2 linked regions of the Homo sapiens genome follow. The protein of the gene in region 1 purifies or fractionates together with the protein of each later gene. This does not show direct contact. Each region holds a gene or a part of one and is shown on either strand. Other genes may lie near its edges.

Region 1 (3,500 bases):
TGAGGGGCGCCAGATATAGCCAGCTCAATGGGTGATGAGTGACGCAGCCCTGCTGGGAGGCTAGGGCCTGAGGTAGGCAGGCGGCTGTAATTAGAGCCGCCAGTGATTCAGGCATTCCCCGAATAGGAGGGAAAAAAACAGAAGCTGCTGAATCCCCACAGCAGCTGGGGCCAGCGAGAAGTCTGGAGCCAGCAGACACCCACCCTGGGGCTAAGACAAACAAATGTCTTGACTTGAGGAAGAGGGTCGGGCCAGGGATCTGGGGGTCCTGTCCTCCCCACCCAACGGTGTCCTTGTTCCAAACCCAAGGTGGGAGCGAGTAAGAAGTCCAAACTGAGAAGAGCGTTATTGAGCTTTGTTGAGTATGGCCTATGCGGCCTGTAGCTGGCTGTCAACTGCGTCAGGGGTGGGTTTGTCAGCCCCCTGTACACGTGGGCACATGCCTACCCCTTAGAGGCAGGAAGCCAAGAGAGGAGGGGTGATGCAACTTGCCCAAAAACACACTGGGGGTCCCTCTGACAGCAAAGTTCACACTCTTTCCAGCCTCCCTTTGGAGGGAATACAATGGGATGGTGTCCTACTGGCTCGCAAAGCAGAGGGGTGGTGGCTGGGGCTGCAGGGAAGGCATGGAGGTGGGAGAGGTGAGGTGTGAGCAAGATGCTCCCAGCGGACTTGAGTGAACCTGAGATTGCCAGGGAAGGAGGTCAGGTAAAGATGAGGGGATAAAGTGCCAGGGTGAGGGGCTGCACAATCAGGGAGGCCTCCTGGAGGGGAGTGGGTGTGGAGCAGAGCCAGGAAAGGGCAGAAGCCACTGGGAGAGGACTGTGTCATCAGGAGGGAGTGAGGAACGGGGAGCCAATGCCAGGAGGTCGGGGGGAGAGAGAGAGGATGTGTCATAGAAGATGCAAGAGGGAGAAGGATGGGCTGCTTTTCTTTAATTGGCAAAGAGACCCCAAGTGGGATAGCACAGGCCCTGAGCCCCAACCAAGGGGAGTTCACCAGGCCCAAGCCCCCACCATATCCAGCTGAGCAACCCCTCTCTCCCTCCCAGGTATGAGGATGAGATCTCCAAGCGCACAGACATGGAGTTCACCTTTGTTCAGCTGAAGAAGGTAGCCTGCCCAGCCTGCCCCAGGGGCTCCTTCCTCATGGGCCCTGGGCCCTCTTTCCCTCCAGATATCCTACTCTCCTTTATGCCCAATCAAAGCCCTCAGAGGCTTAAGTCCCAGGACCAACAGACAGACAGGGAGATACCCCCATCCCCATCCAGCTCCTTTTTCGAGGCTCTGAGCCAGATCTCCTCTGGAATCACCCCCACTCTCACCCAGGAGGCAGCCCCCCAGCCCACTCCTGCCCTGGGACCCTCCATTCCCTCTCCCACCACTCACCACTGCTGCCAACCCCAGGACCTGGATGCAGAGTGTCTTCATCGGACTGAACTGGAAACCAAGTTAAAAAGCCTGGAGAGCTTCGTGGAGTTGATGAAAACCATCTATGAGCAGGTGAGTGAGATGGGGCCAGTGTCTTGCCAAGCCCAGAGCTGGCTGGTCCATGGGTAAAGGACACAGGGGAAGCACAGCCATCCAGTGGGGCATGGAACCTCCAACAGTCACTTACAATTTCCAGCCCCAGAATAATAATTTCCTAAACCCCTTCCTGTGATGGTGTCAATAACCCTGCATGACCCCTGGACATTCATCTCATGGAACATGGGCTGGTTCCCCAAAGGCCACTCTTTCTGGAAGAACTATACCTTTGTGTGCTAGAGTACTGAGGGCATGCTGGGGACCAGGTGCCTCGGACAAGGGTCAGGAGGCTGGCCTCAGTGGCATGGAACCCAGGGGTCTGGAACGAGCATGCTGATTGAACTGATCTCTCCCTAATTCCTGCAGCCTAAACCACAGCACCCACAGTGCTAGTTCTGATAGGCCTGCCTTTCCGTTTTCCCCATTTTTGGCGAAGACAGAGGAAACATTCGCATTTGTTTCCTAAGTCCTCAGTGGGGCCCAGTGTACAAGGGCCCATAACAGCATGGCATGCATCAACACAGCCATTAGATGGGCACTGCCGCTGGCTTCTGGACACCACTCCTCCATGCCAGCTGCTGACTCCTAGGCACCCTTCAGGATATGTGTCCTCCTCTCCACACCACTTGTTTCAAGGGTGAGGAGGTTCAGGGGTGACACTCCTGAGCTAAAGTCCCTTCCACAGAGGTCTGCAGTTCAGCTAGGAGCAGGCAGCACCACTGTTGGAGATAACAGGGCTTGCCCGCCTAAGTGCTGCACACTGCTGGTGCCAAGCTATGGCAGTGCAGCCAAGGTCAAGGCTGAGATCAAAGTCACCACCACAACTTACAGATTCTGCTAAAATGGCCCTATGATCTGCTGACCACAGCTTCATGGCTGCATCCTGTGGAAAGGAAGACCGGGCCTCATGGCCCTGTCATGGGTCACAGTCCTTTCCAGCAGTCCCAGCTGCCAGCTGGGGCCTCCGTGGAACTGAGTCTTGTTTGTGGCCACGAGAGGTAGCATAGCAGAGAGAACAGCAAACCCTTGGGAGCAGCAGGAAGGCAGCCCTCCTAGGCAGTCCGCTCTCCCCACAGCCCTGAAAAGCTTCCTGGCCCTAACAAATCCCCCCACAGCCAGGCCAAGTGCTATGGGGCTGACCAGGGCACCATGCCCACTGGCTGGGTGGGAACTGGGCTAGGGGCTTCTCTGCCCAAACTCACTGTGGGCTGGTGCAGCCCAGGCTGGCATCAGCAGGGCCATCTCCTGTCTCCACTGGGCTGGATCTCTGCCACCCTTAGGCCTCCACCCACTCATACTGCCTCTGAGAGGCTGAGTCCATGGGTGAGTGCAGATTCTGCCGAGCCTAGATGGAGTGCAGATTCTGAAAACCGAGCCCAGTGTTTCTCTACCTGCTCACTGATGTCTCAGCAAGCTCAGAGCTCAAGCTCTAAGCCATGATGCAGGCCCTGCAGCTGTAGAGACATAACTGGAAGAAGGCTGGGCATAACCAGTGATATTCCTGAGCACCCCACAAGACTTCTTGGCCCCTGCCCCAGTAGCCAGGCCTGTGGGTTCCCTTTGGATTTTGCAGTCCTTGGGCCCCAATCCCAACTTGGCCTTGTTTTTTTTTTTTACTATTTCTGTAACTTTAGGCAAGTTTTTTCTCCTCTCTGTGCCTTAGTGTCCTTATCTGTAGCATGGAGAGAGTAACAGGACCAGCCTCATAGGGCTGTGAGGAGGACTCAGCCCACTCATTCATTTAACAAATGTTTATTGCATGCCTACTAAGTGCCAGGCACTGATACCACAGCCTGGGCAAGGTCCCTTCTCTCAAGGAGGGCATGACTTAGCTGAGACAAGTCATAAGCAAGTCAGCAAATATCTGGACAAGATCGCTTCGCAGGGTGACAGATTCTGGGATGCAAAGAAACCGGGTGCTGCGCTGGAGCCGGAAGGAGGGAAGAGCCTCAGAGCCCATGAGCGGGGCCTCTC
Region 2 (3,500 bases), on another chromosome or scaffold:
TAAGACCTCAAAAGCACAGATAGACAAAGCAAAAATGGACAAATGGGATCATGTCAAGCTAAAAAGCTTCTGCACAGAAAAGGAAGCAATCAACAAAATGAAGAGACAACCCACAGAATGGGAGAAAATATTTGCAAACTACCCATCTGAAAGGGGATTAACAATCAGAATATATAAGAAGTTCAAACAACTCAGTAGGAAAAAAACCCAAATGATCTAATTAAAAAATAGGCAAAAGATCAAAAAGAGACATTTCTCAAAACAAGTCATACAAATGGCCAGCAATTATACGAAAAAATGATCACTAATCATTACTAATCACCAGAGAAATGCGAACCAAAACCACAAGATACCATTTTACCTCAGTTAAAATGGTTTTATCAAAAAGACAGGCAATAACAAATGCTGGCAAGGATATGGAGAAAGGGGAACACTTGTATAGTGTTGGTGGGAAAGTAAATTAATACAGTCACTATGGAGAACACTTTGGAGGTTCCTCAAAAAACTAAAAATCTATCATATAATCTAGCAATGCTGCTGCGGAGCATATACCCAAAAGGAAGGAAATCAGTATGTTAAAGAGAAATCTGCATTCGCATGTTTACTGCAGCACTATCCACAATAGCCGAGATAGGGAATCAACCTAAGTGTTGATCAAGGGATGAATGGATAAAGAAAACAAGGTATATATACACAATGGGATATTATTTAGCCATAAAAAGAATGAAATTTTGTCATTTGTAGCAACATGGATGGAATTGGAGGTCATTATGTTAAATGAAATATGCCAGGAACAGTAAGACAAATATCACATGTTCTCACTCATATGTGGGAGGTAAAAATAAGTAGATTTCATGGAGGTAGAGAGTAGAATGATGGTTACCAGAGATTGAGAATGGTAGCGGGGAGGAGGGATAAAAAGTGAATGGTTATTGGGTATGAAAATATAGTTATTTAAAACTGCATTAGTTATATAGAAAAAATAAGACCTAGTGTTCGGTAGCACAATAGGGCAACTATAATTAACGGTAATGTATTATATATTTCAAAATACCTAAAAATGTGGAACGGGAATGTTCTTAACACAAAGAAATGATAAATGCTTGAGGTGATTGATAGCCCAATTACCCTGATCTGATCATTACGCATTGTATGCCTTGTATCAAAATATCACATACACCCCATAAATATGCACTATGTGTTCATAATAACTAAAGATAAAAAAATAAAAAATATATAAAAATAAGTTTGATTTATGGAGTACCATTTGGGTGAACTGAAGCTAGATGCTGTTGATTAAATCCCAAAGCCAGTGCTCTCCAACCCTCATTTCCACCCTCATTTCCAACCCCTCTTTCTTTCCCTCCTTACAAGATTGAAGTTCAGAATCACCAAACAAGACAAGGGCGCACACCCGTCCATACTACCACTTTCTTCAGGCCTGGATGTAGGATTGTTCAAGTTGTGAATAACATACTCAAAATGTTTTACTGAAGGAAGGGCATTTTTCATAAAGGCAGATGGGTTTGCAGTGGCCATTTGAACTAGACCTAGAATCTGAGGCAGCAGGGTACATAAAGATCAAACACTGCATTAAGATATGCCACTGCATAAGCTATTTGTTTTTATGTTGGGCCCTTTAGTAAGTTGCATTTACCTTTACTAGCTTATTATTTGGTTCCCTTAAGCAACGATTTGCTAACTCCCACTCCCAATGTTCTAAAATGATTTAACATAGGAGCTCAAAAATTTTCACTCACTCGTAGGCCATAATTAATATACTAGGGGAAATGGCCCAGTTGCTAAGTGAATAAAGGGCAAAAAGAGAACATTAGGTTTGGCAGAGCAGCATTAACTTATTCAAACTATACAGTTTCTTTCTACATCCATGTTTGCATATCTATTTCATAACCTCATTCCTCACTCAACATTTCTTAATGCCTAATAACTTGATACATTAACTGAGCAAGCCCTATATATAAAGTATAAATCATTTTAAAACTATACTGTGCCTTGGTTATAATACTTTGAGAAAATTTTTCTTCCCAATTGTTTTTCCATTTCATAAATGGTACTTTATGTGGGTCACTTGTACAAGAGAAATAAACTGCTTTTCATTTAATCAAAATTTTATATCATCATGACAAAGTCCCTCTCTAACACATTAACTAATATAAAGCATTGCTTTTGGGAAATTCCATTTTCCAGTTACTGCTGCAGAAGAAACAATTAGAAGCTCATAAGACACAAGTTATCTAGAAGTCTCATTTATAATTAATTAAATTAATAAGCCATTTGTTAAACTCCTACAACATTCAAGGTAAGAATTCAGGCACTGTGCTTGGTGTGGAAAGCTAAAAGGATTTAAATGCTGCCTGCAGAGTTTGCAGACTACTAGGAAAAGTCTGAGGCCAGTTAATGGGAGTAATAATTGGTCCTAGGTAAAAGGAGAAACTGATGAGATGGGAACTGATCCTAACTGCCAAAGGAAGAACTGAAAATAACAGTCTACACTATCCCATAAAGTAACCTTGGGCTCAAACAGTGGGGCACACCATCGAAGTCAGTTCAAGAATCAAACATACAGTGTTAAAAGCCTACTTAGAATCCTGTTCCAGTAATCTTTGGTCAAGCATCAAAGAAAGGCTATGTTCTGTAAAAATATACATGAGATGGCAACTTCATGGATATACTAGTGTCCAGATTCATTTGAAGAGCTTATATCATATACCTACTGAGAGGGTGTTAAAAGTCCAATTAACTCTCAAGATTAAATACTCCCAAGACTCAAGGAAAAGGGAACTAAGTTGTCTTAAGAGTCACAACAGCATGGTGTAAATGTTAAGAGGATGGGTCTGGAATCACATCTTTGCTCAAATCCCACCTCCATGACTTACTAGCTGTTGGTCAAGTTACATAACCTCTCTAAATCTCGGAGTACCCATCTGTAAAATGAGAATAACAGCACCTTCCTCATTGGAAGGGTTGCTGTGAGCATTAAATGAGACAATGTATTTAAAAGGCTTGCACAGTGTATAATACATATTAACCCCTGGTATATTTTAGCAGTTATTATCATTACTATTACATGCCAAACACGGTACTAGATGCTTTTACATATGGGTTAAATGCCCAATAATAACACCATGAAACAGGGAGTCTTATTACCATCTTTTAAAGTGAGGAAACTGAGGCACAGAATAGTTACATGACTTTTTCAATGTCACATCTTGTGATTGGTAGGTCAGGCAGTGTTACTCTAGAGCACAAGCTCTAAAACACCTTAGCACATGTCTATCAACCCTTTGCACATAGGCTATAATTATTTTTCTCCAGTTCATCACTTGTATTTTAACTTAACGGTGTTCCCCACTCTGCTTTCTTGTAATATAAAGTTTTAATTTTTATGCATTCAGATTTGTATTTTATGTTTTTGATTTTCTTGTCATGCTTAATTATGCCTACTTCAAACTATAACACTTGTCACTCCTCATGTTTGG

Evidence for each region.
Region 2: the proteins of KRT80 (region 1) and IFT57 purify together in Homo sapiens (affinity purification with mass spectrometry; one large-scale study listed by BioGRID and IntAct). This does not show direct contact.

The regions. Positions count from the first base shown.
Region 1 is NC_000012.12:52,178,515-52,182,014, reverse strand, and holds part of KRT80 (keratin, type II cytoskeletal 80), read left to right. Parts: intron 1-1,051; coding exon 1,052-1,112; coding exon of another isoform or gene 1,113-1,406; coding exon 1,407-1,502; intron 1,503-3,500.
Region 2 is NC_000003.12:108,194,925-108,198,424, forward strand, and holds part of IFT57 (intraflagellar transport protein 57 homolog), read right to left. Parts: intron 1-3,500. UniProt on the Homo sapiens protein: Required for the formation of cilia. Plays an indirect role in sonic hedgehog signaling, cilia being required for all activity of the hedgehog pathway.